2 separate regions of the Homo sapiens genome follow, and region 2 is linked to region 1. Evidence: fine-mapped expression QTL. A gene starts in region 1. The other region holds a variant in brackets. All regions are shown on one strand. Distances are from middle to middle. Region 1 holds the start of LINC02347 (long intergenic non-protein coding RNA 2347). Region 2 holds the start of LOC105379613 (a long non-coding RNA gene).

Region 1 (8,339 bases):
TGTGAGGAGATTTAGACATCATCAGAAACGATTCATGTCATGATGTTGGAAGTCTCCTTTCTTCTTTAGTTCTGACAATGCGATGTAAAAGAGTATATATTTTATTTAAATTTCTATCTTTATCCATATACAATTGATAAATAAAATTGTAGACATTTAAGGTGTACAACATGATGTTTGGAAATACATATGCATTGTGGAATAATTACCACAATCGAGCTATTTAACATATCTCATCTCACATAATTACCATTGTGTGTGTGTGTGTTTAGTGAGAGCATTTAATATTTCAATCCTTAGCAAATTTCTAGTATATAATACAGGATTATTACCTATAGTCACAATGCAGTACATAGATCTCCACAACTTATTTATCCTGCATAAGTGAGATTTTGTACCCTTTGACCAATATCTCCCTATTTTCCTTTCCCTGCGGGCCCTGGCAACCATCCTTATACTCTCTGCTTCTATGAAGGTAATTAGTTTTAATTCACCTCCTGGGGTAGCAGTTTCAGTAATCAAACACTCACATTCCTGCATTGATTAGCAAATGCCCAATTAGAAAGTCCACAGTCCAGAAGTTCTCACTAAAGCCTGTCAGCTGCCATTTTCTATGTCTGCTCAACACTGGAGGTCTCACTAGCTAGTGTAATTCATCTAGAAATGCTATTTCCTTGGAAAGTGTAGTGGTGTGTTCTCTAGCAACATGGATGTAGAAAATGGGCTTTCATTGACGAGAAAGGCAGATGGAATAAACTGAATCAGTCACTCCTCACACCTGCAAAACAAGGTCTCACCATCTCATAAGCCCCATACTCTATACTTGTAGGGAGAGCACATGAAGTCAAACCCCTAAACCACCCTCCATCCAGTCACTGAGATGGCAAATTCAGGTTGCCAGATGCCAACTGTGATGGATTTCTTCTTTTAGAACATTGTCATAACTGTCCCATGGGGATCTTTTATGGCATGTGTTATGTGTTGAAGGACTCATGTGTTGAAGTCTTTGTTTTCTTTTTGTTGTTGTTGTTGTTGTTTGTTGTTGTTTGAGATGGAGTTTTGCTCTGTTCCCCAGGCTGGAGTGCAGTGAGGTGGTCTCTGCTCACTGCAACCTCTACCTCCCAGATTCAAGCAAGTCTCCGGCCTTAGCCTCCCAAGTAGCTGGGATTGCAGGCATGTGTCACCACACCTAACTAATTTTTGTATTCTTAGTAGAAACAGGGTTTCACCATGCTGGCCAGGCTAGTCTCGAACTCCTGACCTCAGGTGATCCACCCACCTTGGCCTCCCAAAATGCTGGGATTGGAGGCATGAGCCACCACGCCAGGCCTCATGTGTTGAAGTCTGAACCTCCAATGTGACTGTACTTGGATATAGGGTCCTTTAAAGAACTAATGAAGATTAACGGAGGTCCTAACAATGGAGCCTAATCCAGTTTGATTTGTGTTCCTAGAAGAGGAAGAGACATGAGAGATACGCACAGTGAAGAGACCAAGCTGGGACACAGTACGAAGGTGGCATCTGCACGCCAAGCAGAGGGACCTCAGAAGAAACTGAGCCAGCCAGCACCCCACCTTCGTCTTTGACCTCCAGCCTCCAGAACTATGAGATATACCTTTCTGTTGTTTAATCCATCCAGGCTGTGTCATTTTGTTATTGCAGCCTGAGAGACCATTACAGAATGTGTAGTTGGATCACTTACAAGGATAGAGGATCTGGGTATCGTACAGTTTACAGAATGTATGGACCGCTGTGTTCCTATTGATAATATGTATTAATTATCAAATACTCATGTGTATGGCAGAATTTGTCCTGAGGCTTTGTTTCCTCTTAATCTGATTGTGAAGTTGGAGAAAAGGCTAATCCCTTGCCCAGCTCAAACTCTGACAAATATGTAATATTATTTCAAAAATGGTTTCCCATGACCCAAAGGGCTGAGGCTACTTCATGGCATTTGCTCTTTGACTCACCTGGACAATCTCTAGAAATGCACCTGAACTCGCCTGATGAAGTGCCCAATATTTCCCATTGTTCTAGGGAGCTGGGTTTTTTTAGCATGGAAATGAGATGATAATGAAGCCTGAGGTCTTCCTGAAGTCATTTGGTTGGCTATCTTGGCTCTAATCAGTTTCAGCTGGTCTGGTTAAAAAGGGAACTTTTTATTGCAGGCATCCTTAAAGAGTAGCAGAGTTAGGATAGGGTAGAAATTCAGCTATGTCACATAGGCATTATACTAGGTAACACTAACACCAGGGAAGAAACAGTACCCTTCTCACGAGTGGGGCACTGTCACCAAGGAGATGGTGGGGTGGAGCTCTGCCTACCAACCAAACCGTACATCAAGACTTTATTCTCTTCTTATGCTCTAGAATTTCACAGTAGTATTGGAGATAGGACATTTCCTTAAAGAAAGATGGAAAGCTAAAACAGGTTGCTATTGATCCGCTGGATACAAACAGCTTGCATGTCTGCAAATTATTCTGGTTGACTTGTGCCCAGTCCTGTTCATACAAGGACTTCAAAGACTCACCGGTTCATTCTGGAAACACAGATATTTAAAAACCTCCCATGTTAGCCAGGCACAGCGGCTCTGTAATCCCAGCACTTTCGGAGGCCAAGGCAGGTGGATCACTGGAGGTCAGGGGTTTGAGACCAGCCTAGCCAACATGGTGAAACCCCATTTTTATAAAAAATAAAAATTAACCAGGCGTGATGGTGGGCGCCTATAATCTCACCTACTCGGGAGTCTGAGGCATGAGAATCGCTGAAACCTAGGAGGTAGCGGTTGCAGTGAGCCCAGATCATGCCATTGTGCTCCAGCCTGGGTGACAGAGCGAGACTCTGTCTCAAAACAGAAACAAAAACCACAACGAAAAAACCTCCCATGTTCTTAGGCTCTGGCTCTGTCTGGGACATCTGCTGTCCATAGAGTAACCAAGGGCTATTTCCCAGCCACTAATTCCAGAGGTTTCCAGAGGGTTTTGTTCCCTCCTTCTTTGAACACTGCAGTCCATCAGGGTTTCAAGTAGTCCTGGTTTCCCAAAGTCTTGGTTGAAACCTGAAACACAGGACATTTGACCAAAAAAACAAAACAAAACAAACAAAAAGAAAAAAAGCCCCTATCCTAATGCCACAGAGACCCCAAAACAATTCACCAAGTGCATCAGGCCTCAGAGAATCAAATCAACTCTTTCAGTCTCTGCCAATGGCCATTCTCTCCATAAGTCTCGGGCAAAATTCCCGGTGGGAGGCAAATGAAGCCGTGTCTACACATCTGCTGTCCTCCCTCCCACACACCCTCTCCACTTCCTTCCTCGGTAGGTCACAATCAAAACACCTATGCAAATTTAGTGATTCTTTATAATTTCTTATCCATTGAGCCTCTCATGCTGTGCTTTATCAGTTTTCCATGACCACGAGACGCTCGCAGAACAAGCTAGTGCTTGGGACAACTGAAGATGAAAAATAGATCATTGGAGGTTGTGATCTAGCAAGGAAGATTAGGTTTATACCTAGAAAAGTTAGAAAAGCAGGCGCCTAGAGAGCCAGGTGTCACCATTTTAAAATTAACTCCATCTTTAAACTCGCAACACACATTCCTTGCCAGTTATGACCCGTGGTCATAAGATGTTTACTGCAGAGGAAACCGCTTGGCAATGCCTGCAAGGACAAACTCCTACAACAGCAGAAAGTCCACATGTCCCAATATCACATAACAATATATGCTTTTAAGAAATGTACAATCATGCTTTCATGTACTTATAAACTAAAATGCCAAGGATAACTTTCTTTAAATGGCCAAAGTACTACATCTTGTCACATTGTCAGCCCACCCACACACAGAGATAGCTTAGCTTTTATGTAGATGAGACCCCTGTGTAAGAAGAGTTTAAAACAAAGACAGGGCATTCCTCCTCTTGCTTTCTGAGGACACCCTACTCTGAATCTGAAGAATTTTCAATAAATGATCTCTTCTCACTACACTCTACAACTCACCTTGAATCCCTTTCTGTGGGAGGTCCAGGAACCCTCTCTTGAGGTCTGGATCATAGGGACCCCTTTTTCCAGCAACACAAACATTGACAATATAAAAATAAAGAACATGTTTATCTATGATATCAATGTCTGTATCTGTAAGTATACCTAGCTCAAAATCTGTCTCTTTATTTAGTTTTCTAACTATATGTCTATCTGTATCATAGACATATTAGAAATCATAATTTCTAACATATTGTTGTAGGAGGTCATAACAGAACCTATTATAAAGTGACAGTCTCTTGCTCCTATTTTCTATTATTTCCCATTCAGTCCAGGTAAGTCTTTTTGGGGGACCCTCCCCCACACCCGCTGGAACAGTTACTCTGGCACAGCCGCTCCAGCCTGGATCTCATTTTTGCTTCTCCTGGACTTCTCACTGTGCAGATGTTAGACTCACACTCTCCTCTGGCCTCCTGCTCCTGCTCTGAAAGTGAGCAGTTGTCCCTCTGGGTGGCATTTGAAGTCAAAGCTGGGTCTCTTGACAGTGCCCACCCCTGGTATTCCCACTGCAGGAGGGAGGCCTCTTCTGTTAACAGTGACAGTTATTACAGAACAATGCCTGGAGAGATGATAACTTAGAGCAATTTCATTGTCTTTCCCCTTGACGACTCAGCTCCCACGCTAGAGCAGGTGAGGCAGTGCTTAGGAATAACAAAACAAAATCGCAAAGCCAGGACTTCCTTGAGTTTACTTTGCTTTCTCACTAGATTTTAATTATTATTATTATTATTATTATTATTATTTTGAGATGGAGTTTCACTCTCGTCACCCAGGCTGGAGTGCAATGACGGGATCTCAGCTCACTGCAACCTCTGCCTCCCGGGACCAAGCTATTCTGCCTCAGCCTCCTGAGTAGCTGGGATTACAGGCACCCGCCACCAAGCCTGGCTCATTTTTGTATTTTTAGTAGAGACAGGGTTTCACCATGTTGGCCAGGCTGGTCTCGAACTCCTGACCTCAGGTGATCCGCGTGCCTCAGCCTCCCAAAGTGCTGGGATTACAGGTGTGACCCACGGTGCCCGGCCTCTGACTAGCTTTTTGGAAAATTTCATAGAATGATCCAGGGTTCCAGATTCAATTTACTTTAAGGTGAAATAAGTGGGCTGGTTAGCAAGTGGTCAGCTTTTCTTTGGTGTGAGGATAAAAAGAGGGTGGCTACTTTCTATGGCTTTCCAAACAGTCTCTGTTTCACTTAGTCCAAAAACACGTAATGTTCATATAACAAAGAAATGATACATATTTGAGGTGATGATATACTAAGTTGCCTAATTGGATCATTCCGCCATGTATACAGGTATCAAAACATCACATTTTGTTCTATAAATATATACAGTTACTATTTGTGAATTTAAAATCAAACTATAAAAAATACATTCTACTAATGTTCTAAGATGACTTCTGAGACATTTAGCGTGTATTGATTACTTATACTATGTCTCTCACTGCTTCTACTCATTGAAGAGGTTTATATTGTAAGTAAACATAATTCTTATCATATTCATTTTACAGATAAGGAAACTAAAGTGCAGAATAAATATTTGTCCAAATCTGCACGAGAAAGAGGTTCAACACAGGGCTAGCACCCAGGGATGTCTAGTTTTCAGGACCCACCCTCTCGCGTAGTACACTGCCCCTCCCTCCATTCACTGCAGTTAGGATTCAGGAGCAATAACTGGACACAGTCAAGCCAGTTTGCATCTTTACAGAAAATTCCACCCATTTCGATTAGTGAAGATTCACACGTTTAGCTATGATTTGGCTCCCAGAATTCCTCCAAGTCAGAATATAAACAGAGCTAGACATAGTTCAGACAGTTGTGTCATACCAAAAAAATTTTTAAAAGGATACAGAATCAATCAATCAAGTAGAAAATGAGACATTTTTCATTAAGCTAAAAATAATTAAGTCAATTATTTGGCACTAATGCAACTCTTAAGCCCCGCGGGTGGGAACTTTTGGTTCATAAAAAGTGTTTAGTTCAGATCTGAGCTGAAACAACTTTCAATCTCATTTTCAAGTAGAAAGATGGCAAGGGCCGAGGCGGGCGGATCACAAGGTCGGGAGATCTAGACCATCCTGGCTAACACGGTGAAACCCCGTCTCTACTAAAAATATAAAAAATTAGCCAGGCGTGGTGGCGTGCACCTGTAGTCCCAGCTACTCGGGAGGCTGAGGCAGGAGAATGGCGTGAACCCGGGAGGCGGAGCTTTCAGTGAGCCGACATTGCGCCACTGCACTCCAGCCTGGGTGACAGAGCAAGACTCCGTCTCAAAAAAAAAAAAAAAGAAAGAAAGAAAAAAAAAGAAAAGATGGCAAGGGCTCCTTTACACACCAATAAAATCAGAACAAATACGTATAAGCAACTAGGACAATCCTGGAATATTGTGGGCACCAAGTAAATATCGTGGATGCATCTTATGCAGCCAGACAGGATGATCCAATAATCAGACATCCGAAGGCTCCTGGAGTTTGATCCTCTGAATTCACTCTGCAATATGAAGTCCTGTTATTCTTGGCAACCGATCGTGCTTTTGAAAAAGTGTGTCCCAACTGAGATAACATTGAAATTTTCTGTTTAAAGACACCTCAAATGACTGTGCTCAGGAGTCAGTGTTCCCATCAATGGGTCTGAAGATATTCCTAAGCTCCAAGCCATAATAAATGGCATCTGAAATTATTTCAAGATTAATCATCCTGGGTAGACCTTGAGGGTTAGTCTGAAATTGTACATAACAACCCGGAAAAGCTGTGCATTGCCCAGCTAAAGTGTGGTCCCTGAAAGCCATCACCTGGGCCAGGTAGGCTGCTAGGCCACCCAGAGTAGAAAAATACAGAGCAGCCTACGGGCATATTTTCTTACCCAAGGCCAGTTTAGACAGAAGAGTCACTTGAATAATTGTCCACTTCGTTCGTTCTTCAATCCCAGAGGATACTTACTTTTGGAATATTCACTTTACTCCCCACATAGCCATATTTTTCTCACTTAACTCCATCTCTTCTTCTCTTTAAGGCCTGGTAGAAAATGGCCAAATTTTATAAAATGAGGCAGAAGTGCCTCTAACATTGCCCATATGTGGGAAGATGAAACCTAGGAAAGACAGCTTAGAAGGAGGGAGTCATGGTACCCACTGGGGTTCCTCAATGAGAACATTGTAGAAGGTGTAAATTGGCGGACTCAAGGCTGAATGCAGCCTATAGGTATATTTTCTTGGCCTACATGTCATTGCTTTTAAAATCACATTGGTTTTCAATAGCCAAAGTTCAGGGGGTTTTATATGCAGGGTCCTGGGTTTCAGGCTACTCTTTAAAAGTTTAGAAGATGTGGCAATGCTGGGCCTGTGTTTCTGCATAGCAGCAAAGGCCAGGAGCAGAGTAGCAGCTGCTTGCCTCAGAGGTGGCATTAGATCTTCAGGACACCGCAGTCCCCACCACTCCCAATTGCCTTAGCCTGGTTTCTGACACTCATTTATATCACTTGTTAGGCTGCTATGGGCATTGGAGTTTGTGTCTCCTAATTTAATACCTTTGGAAAACATTACTAAAAAACACATTTCCACAAATAGACTTGGCAGTATGGCAGAAATGCAAAAGTTAATCAGACCTACATCCTGCCCCCATATAAAAATAAAGTGCAGAAGAGCATATATAGTATGTTTCTATTTGGGCAAAAAGAAATCCCACATCTTCCCTCTCTCTATGCAATGCAAGTGCACAGTGCATAAATCACAAAGATCTCTTAGCATTGGATGCAGTAGATATATCTACACGATTTGAATTTTTTATCAAATGCTTATATTAATTTTTTAATAAGAGATCTAATTGTTATGATAGTTTCCAGAGATGGCTATCATAAATATTATTCCTCTTTCTACGCACATTACACTCAAACTGTTAAGAAAGGGAGTCAATTTCTCCTCCCTTTGTATCTGGGCTAGCAGTATAACTTACCTTGAACAAGAGAAGGTGGTAACGGGTCACTGTGATGATTCCAGTCACCGTCTATAAGAGGTCCAACAGCTTTTGCTTTCTCTCTGGGGAAAACCAGGCACTGTGTAAGAACTCCAGCCACTATGCGGCTGCCATGCCGTGAGGAAGCTCACACAAGCCATGTGGATAGGGATGACCCAAGTAACCAGGCCGCCAGTGACCACAGAGGCCTGAGGTGTGTGATCCCAGTTGAGTCACCACTATTTGTGACATCCCAGCCAAGGATCCAAACATCGTGGAGCAGAGAAAGCCCCTCTCATCCTAGCTTGTCTGCATTGCTGATACAAAAGTGGTGAGCAAATAAATGATTGCTT
Region 2 (8,339 bases), 94 kb after region 1:
AAGTTCTTCTGGGGGAGTAGACATGTGCCTGGTAAGTTGGAGTATGAACAAGCATCAATTAATGCTACAGATTCCCTCTTTATGGAGTCTTATGCGTCTTTTACAAAGAAAATGCCAAGGAGGGCTCAAAAGTTCAGCTAAATCTCTTTAATGCTAATCAATTAAGGGAAACAAGACTATGTTTATTAACGCTTGAATTATCAAATTTTGTAAAAAAAAAATGATTTGTACTGTCGTGTATAGTAGCCATGGTAATTCAAATAAGATTGACCAACATTGACAAACAACCCTTTTAATAATTAGATAAGAATGAATCTCCATTAGCCGTTTGGGGCCATATTAATGGGGACCTGTTTGTATGTTTTTTGTGTGTTTATTTTCCTGTAAGAGGTTATAATATTTGTGCTCCTTGCGCTTGCATATGCTGTTACTTCAGACTTGCTTACCAAGTGTTTGGTGAATGAACTTATAACTTGACCCTCTTAATTAACAGGGATTTAATATCTGGGGCACCTGACTCTATAGGCTGATGGCATGCTGGGCAACAATGAAATTGGTGATTTTAAGAGAAATGTAGCCAGCTCATAGGCTGCCATTCCTGAGCACTGACTGTGCCTGCACTTGCCCTGAGATCACCACTACATTTGCCCATTTGCCATCAGAACCACCATGAGGTGGGCAGCCATGACCCCCCCACAGATGGGGTCTCTCTACATAGGAGGCATCACACTGGACTCAACCTTGCCATGGTCCCTCATCCTCCATCCTCCCTCTTCCCTGACCCACTGGTTCCCCCTTTTACACCCTAAAAGACCAGTCAGGTCCCTGAGATCTCCACCCAGCATTGGGCCAGGTCCACCAGAGGCTGAAGCTAGTGTTTGCTCCTGTTTCTGGAATCAGGTTTCTTGGCCAGGTCTTGGCAGCTGAGGTCACACAGGCCTGGGACTGAGTCCTCCTTTGGTTATGAAGGAGAGTGACTCAACTTCCCATGCCTCAGCCTTCTCATTTATAAAACGGGAATCATAAAGACCCCCTCTTCACAGGGTCCAGGAATCAGTGCTGCAGGTGAGGCCTTTCACAGAGCACAACACGACAGGCACCCTTGTGGATTGTGTGGGCAACGCCATTTTACTCCATGGCCCCAGAGCCTGGAGCTCTGCAGGAAGCTCCCCATGAGCTGCAGGAAGCAGCATTTCTGATTGGGCTTCTGCCATGGGCCTGCTCCAGGTGACCCTCTTCCAAATGGCAGCTGTCTCTTGAGTCTCTTGGTTTACCCAACCCAGGAGAGAGGCAGGAGTGGCATATGTTTCAGGAAGATGGAGTCCTGGGGAGCAGGTGTGAGGGGTAGGGGGATGGCAGTGCACCTGGAGCCCAGGCCATGACACAGGTATGAGGGTAGGGGGATGGTGATGCACCTGGATCTGAGGCCATGACACAGGTGTGAGGGTAGGGGGATGGTGGTGCGCCTGGATCTGAGGCCATGACAGATGTCCCCTCAGGTGCTGCCTCCAGGACACAGACCCAGTATCTCCTGTCTTCTGTATTTTTCACAAGAGGCCAAAATTTGGAATTTTCATTTGCATATATGAGAGCTTCTAATTTTGTTAAACCATGACTTTTTAAAGTTGTTTCTGGCCCGGGCTCAGTGGCTCATGCCTGTAATCCCAGCACTTGGCAGGCTGAGGCAGATGGATCATGTAAGGTCAGGAGTTCAAGACCAACCTGGCCAAAATGGTGAAACCTCGTCTCTACTAAAAATACAAAAAATTAACTAGGTGTGGTGGTGGGCGCCTGTAGTCCCAGCTACTCAGGAGGCTGAGGCAGGAGAATTGCTTGATCCCAGGACGTGGAGGTTGCAGTGAGCCGAGGTCACACTACTGCACTGCAGCCTAGGTGACGGAGTGAGACTCCGTCTCAAAAAACCAAAAAAAGTTGTTTCTGAACAGTTTGAACACAACAGGTCAGCATGCTGCATTCAGGCCTCTGTTCTCCTCCACACAGCAGTTCTGCACAACCTTGTCCTTTTGACTGACAGCTCCAGCCCAGCCCTGCCAGGAACTCTCCCCACCCCACCTCATTGCTTTACTGGTCCCAAATCCCTTCCCCAGCCTCATCAGACCTGAAGATCCTTCCAGAAGGAATGGAATCTAGTAAATGAATTAATATCAGAGATGATGATGGATGAAGCTTAATCATTGGCCCCTCTCTGGAGAAACAAAAATTAAAAACCTTTTTCTGGAGCCGCCTCTTGAGTGTCCATCCACAGGTCCCCTTCTCTTTCCTCCTGATTGACCAAGCTCACATCCCAGAATAGATACTGAATAAAGATTCACTTTCCCAGGTCCTCTGGAGATGACAGGTGACCCAATATTGTCCAGGCAGACCTAAGAAAGACACTAATTGAGGCTTATGTAAAGCTTTTTCCTGACAAAAAATAAAAATAAAAAAAAGTAAAACTTGCCAGTTTTCTGCCTCTGAATGTAAGTAAGCAGGTGATGATATGCTGTGAGAAGCTCCAGCAGCCATTCTGTGACCATGAGGAGACTAGACCAAGGATCAACCAACATGCAGTGGGTACAGCAGAAAGATAGAAAGAACTGGGTGCTTGGAGACCTGGGAGATGGCTGAACAAAACCTGAAATTTCCTAGCTTTAGCTTCTTGTCATGTGAATTAATCTTTCTTGTTTAAAATCTTCTAGTTGAATATTCTATTATAATGAGGTAGTGTCAAATGATTCACAAAGGACCTGAGATACTAAAATGTGAAATTGTGGGCTGGGTGTGCAGTGACCCATGCCTATAATCCCAGCGCTTTGGGAGGCCAAGTTGGATGGATTGCTTTAGCCCAGGAGTTCAAGAGTGGCCTGGGTAACATGGCAAAATATTATCTGCACGAAAAATAAAATAAAATAAAATAAAATAAAATAAAATAAAATAAAATAAAATAAAATAAAATGCAAAATGTAGAGCACCACCTATGTAAGTTAAATATGAAATTGACCTCCGTATGGCAGCACTGACTTTTCCGGTGTAATTTCCCGATGGCATCTGCTACCTGTGTGAGTCTCTGTGAGTGCTGGTGTGTGTTGTCATGACACAACCTCACAAAAGTGAACAGGCACTCTTACGCTTTTATTCACCATTCAGGCTCCTGCCTGGAATTAATGAAGTGGATGGTTTCAATGAAAAAAGACTGCCAGATGCAGAGAGAGCCACAGCTTTGTGAAAATGAGGGGGTGCAAGAATCTGGCTGACTTCCTTCCATCCTGCGTGGCCGGTGTAATCACTCTACACCATCTGTCGGAAGTTCATATGGAAAATTGTCACAACGAGCTTTCTTTTGTCAACCTCATAAATGGTCCTATTTAAAAAAATTCCAAGCTTCCTTAGGCAACTGTAAGCAAATAAATAATTGTTTTTCACTTCAAAACTATCCATCTTTTCTCAAACCCCCAGCTACCATCAAGCCCCCTAGACATTTTCCATGTCATAACCCTCCA[T/C]CTGCAGCTGGGTCTCCTACTGCACCCACGGTAGGCTACTGCACTGACCGGAATTCCATTTGTCTTGGTTTTACTGCCTGATAAAAGTAGAGATTGCATTAAACAAAGACTCCATGACAGACTGAGAGCATACAATTTAGAGATTAAATGGGCCAGATTTTAGATGCCCAAGGTGTTTACGGCAACGAGCAGAGTCAAAATAATTAGAAAATGATGCACGGCCTACCACAAACCATCTCTCATCTGAACAGCTGATCGTCACCCCCACAATGTTCCAGATGTGTGTGTTTTCTTCAATAATGGGGAGTTAAAAATAACCCTCTCAGTTCCTCCAAATGATGTATGGCAGGGCCACTGCCATCAGGCATTCTGCAGAGGGGAGCCTCCTCAGTTACTATAGAAAGGCTTGAGAATAAAATAAATATAACCATGTGCTCATCATCCAAATGAAATTTTAATTAATTCAGAACTTGTTCCGAAAGCTTTCCAAGACAACTCATGCTAATGAGCTCTCTGCACTCTTCTTCCTCCAGTTTATGATGTCATGCTAAATGGGCTGCATCTACCAATGTTGATGAGATGAAAATCCATTCATTCTGGACTGAGGTTTGAGTATAGTTTTAGGACCTGCTGAAACACCTCAATTTCCCTTCTTCAAAACCCAGGGCCTCTTCTCTCTCTTTCCTTGTTGGGCTGAGATTGATGGCTTTTGTAAAAGCTTTCGGCGCTTCATGGGAAGAATCTCAACTCAATGCATTGGCTTTGGGGCATTAACCAATTTCCGTACTTAAAACAACTACCCACCAGCCCTTCCTCCAGCCAGCATTTTGTGCATGGGTGACACCAGCAGTGAGACAGAATTATCTGCTGTTCTTAACCACACAGCCTGGCCACTTCATTGTCTATGGGTCAAGGGCAGCAAGGTGTCATCACCTTGGGGTGAGTACAGATCTGCCAGGCTCATCAAATCACATGCATTTGGTCTCTCCACTCAGAAAATAAATGCCAACTCCTACCTCATCTTCCCCAAGAGCCTTGAAAAAGTCAAATGAGATGAGCTGTGTACTCTGTGCACTAAATAATGTGTATACACAGACACAGAATGTGGAATAATTGTCACTGGAGACTCGAAGGGAGGAAGGATGGGAGGGAGATGAGGGATGAGAAATTACTTAATGGGGACAATGTACATAACTTAGGTGGTGATTACCCTAAAATCCCAGACATCACCACTGTGCAATATATCCATGTGACAACACTGCATTTATGCTCCTTAAGTGTATACAAATTTAAGAAAAAATGTTAAGTAGCTTTCATATTTGAATGAACACCTCTAACTTCCATCATGTTGGGTTCCTATGGACCCTGGAATTGTGAGACCACACAGGGAGAGGAGGAGCCAATCCCAGCTGTGCTGCCCCTCACCGGAATGGGAGCACCGAGGGCAGGATAGACCAGGGGAGGGAACATGGATAATGATTTCGACACCCTGGTGCTGTTGCTAGGCATTACCTTTTCACATTTCCTCCTAAAACCACAAGGATCTGATATACTGAGCATAAAACCCACAGCATGGGACAAAATACAACTTTTCTTTCAAATTATCCAATTCTAGACATGTGAGCAGGCAAGGACACCTGCATGTGATTGAGGAAGCCCCTGATGGACAGTCACTGTTCCCGGGGTGAGCTCTGGGGATGCGGGCCTGCACTCATCCGGACAATCCAGGAGGAGGCGCTACACCAAGAGTCAGCAGCCCTTTTTCTGTAAAGGGCCTGAAAGAAAATACAATAGGCTTCATGGTCTGTGCAGTTTCTGGCACAATTGCCCAATTTGGCTCTTGCAGAGTGAATGGACATGGCTGTGTTTCGTTAAAACTTTATTTACACAAATAGGTAGCAGAGGAAGGAAATCAATTCAAGAGATGTTTAAGAGACAAAATAACAGTTTGCAAACCAAAGACATATGACAGTATGAATAATGTCCTTAACTAGCTAATGCCCACACAAGAAAAAAATTAGATATTATCTCTATTACAGTCCATTTCACACATCTTTCATAAAAACAAAACAAGGGAATATTTCCCAACTATGGATGCCAGATCATTAGTGGGTCATTACATTGATTTATTGTCATTTTTATTTTTTTGAGACAGACTCTCATTCTGTCTCCCAGGCTGGAGTGCAGTGGTACAATCTCTGCTCAGTGCAACCTCTTCATCTCAGATTCAAGCAATTGTCCCTGCCTCAGTCTCCTAAGTAGCTGGGATTACAGGCACATGCCATCACGCGCAGCTAATTTTTCGATTTTTTGGTAGAGATGGGGTTTTGCCATGTTGGCCAGGCTGATCTTGAACTCCTGATCTCAGGTGATCTGCCCGCCTTGGTCTCCCAAAGTGCTGGGATTAGAGGTGTGAACCACCATGGCCGGTCCATTCCGACGATTTAGTGGATCACAACTTTCAAATTAAAAAAGATAAAATAGTCCAATAGTAATAAAATCACATTTGATATAAAATAAAACTTTTATTTTCATATAATAGTGAGGGAAAATATTTTCTATATGACTTCTTTAACTTTATGCATATACGTGTGTGTATGATATATGAAATGTATATTTTTCTTTGGGCCATCATCAATAAAGTTGGAAAAACACTGATATAATTGAAAGAACACAGAACTAGGAAATGGAAAGACTAGACAGGCTTTAATCTAAATTGTACTATTTGTTAGATTTGGATCTATATTTAACATCTCTAGACTTTACATGTCTTATTTGTAAAATTGAACCTTTCATTTATATTCTTAAAAATATATTTACTATGCACCCGCTATTAATCAGGCACTGTTCTAGGCTCTGGACATACATGGATCAACTAGACAGGCCCCACTCTAGGAAGCTAACAACCTACCTGGGGAGAGACATAAATAAACAAGTAAGTGGGTAAGCAGAGAAGAGGACGGGCTGAATGCTTATGGGGATGGGCACTGCTTCAAAGAGAGAGGTGAAGGAAGGCCTGGTAGGAAAGGGAGTGGCTATGAGAAGGTCCAAGGGGGCCTCTGGTGGTGAAAAAGAGCAAGGAGATTGCTGAGGGTGAATCTGGGCTCAGAGAGGTGAAAAGTCTTGATCACGTTCACCGGGGCCTGGTGGTAACTTGAACACAGGCTTTCCAGGCCAAATCTCAAATTCTACATCACTAGGCTTCTTCATTATGAATATGCTTCTTAAAATTGCATTTCTATATGCAAGCTGCTAGAAAGTTTCAAAGAAATGGTAGCACACCTAACTTTTGAATGCAGGTCTGGCTACCAGAGGCCACATCTCTCCAGCAATCAAGCTCAGTTGATGCCTTGAGGTATGGCCATTGCAACAAGGACTCTTGATCTCGCCTTCTCAAGCAAGTGCTTTTCTGATTAAAGAAGCATAAACAAAACCCCAAGCCATAGGTGCTGATTCTCCCCTGTGCAAATATCACTTGTATCAATCTCCAACTATACAATAGGCCTACATATGATACCAATACAAAACCTGCCTGTTCCAAGAAAGGAACTCACTCCATTACACTCAGGCATCAAGTCCATGATCTGAGTCTATTGCTTTGGAGCATCTGATGTCTGAAGTGGTGTGGGAGCCCTCTGTCCCCTAGTAACAGGTGGTGGAAGGCAGAATAACAGTCCTCAAAGATGTCCATGCCTAATCTCCAGAACCTTTGAATATGTTATCATACATAACAAAGGAGACTTTGCAGAGGTGACTATGTGAAGGCTCTTGAGATGGGGAGATTGTCCTAGATTATCAAGGTGGACTTATTATCATCCTAAGAGTCCTCGTGAGTAAAAAGTGAGAGGCAGGAACGTCAAAGAAGGAGATGTGATGATGAAAGTAGACAATGAAAATGAGAGCTTTGAAGATGCTTCACTTTGGCTTTGAGGATGAAGGAAGGGACCATGAGTTAAGACATACTGGTGGCATTTAGAAGATGAAGATGAAAAAGTTAGGGAAATTGATTCTCCCCTGAAGCCTTCAGAAAGAATGCAGCTCTGTCAACACATGGATTTTAGTCCAGTAACACCCATTTTGGGCTTCAGATTTCCATAAATATAAGAGAATGCATCTTTCTGAATCCTTGAGTCTGTGGCATTTTGCTTTAGCAACAATGAGGAACTAATACACTGATCCAGGACCCTGATCACGAATGGACACAAGGCAGGGCCATTACAGACGCCCATCCTCCAAACCACAGTGATTGGTCCGAGGATGGGCACATGACCCAAGCTGAGCCATTCAGAGTCCTTCTTTGTGGTTTTTCTTTCTGAGCCTGACGGCAAAGACTCTTCTGTCCTTTCTGAAAGGTGAAACCTTTCCCATGTGAGCCTATAGTTGTCAGAAGTTGTATTTCCTATGGCTTAGCAAAGGCCAGTCTGCAACTGCAGTGTAGAGACTGATTCAGAAAGAGGAGAGGAAGGAGAGGAGGAAAAGGAAGAAAGATTCTAAATGCTGTTTGAGCCCAAGAACAAAGTTCTTCTCACACTCAGCCCTGTCTGTTTCTAGTGTAGTTAGGATACACAATGCATCTCTTTCTCTCCTCTCTCTCTCTGTGTTTCTTCCTTTCTTCCTTTATTTATTCATTCATTCCTTCCTTCCGACCTTCTGCATGTCTTGGCTGGATTTTCTTCAACTGCAGTCAGAGAATTAACGAATTTGAAGGGTTTACCTAAACTTGTTATTCCTCTTGGGGAAACTGAGCATTTCCACACATAGTTTAAAGACAAATTAAGTCTCAACGTGAGATCCCATCTCCTTCCAAGAGGGGTTGCATGTACTCTGGTTGCTTCTCAG

What was found. PIP is the estimated chance that this variant, and not a neighbour inherited with it, causes the effect.
Region 2: its variant is fine-mapped to the expression of LINC02347 in pancreas (GTEx, PIP 0.99).

Annotation. Positions count from the first base shown.
Region 1 is chr12:126,438,685-126,447,023 of GRCh38, reverse strand. LINC02347 (long intergenic non-protein coding RNA 2347) reads right to left here and starts at 4,543. Exons shown (of 12, transcript NR_130748.1): 1 at 4,436-4,543; 2 at 3,997-4,058; 3 at 1,971-2,139. It overlaps LINC02825 (long intergenic non-protein coding RNA 2825), which reads left to right. Exons shown (of 4, transcript NR_147498.1): 2 at 1,454-1,604.
Region 2 is chr12:126,344,504-126,352,842 of GRCh38, reverse strand. It overlaps LOC105379613 (a long non-coding RNA gene), which reads right to left and starts at 2,822. Exons shown (of 3, transcript XR_001749379.1): 1 at 2,230-2,822. RefSeq lists a silencer at 1,357-1,512. The variant T/C (reference allele first, on the strand shown) is at 3,501.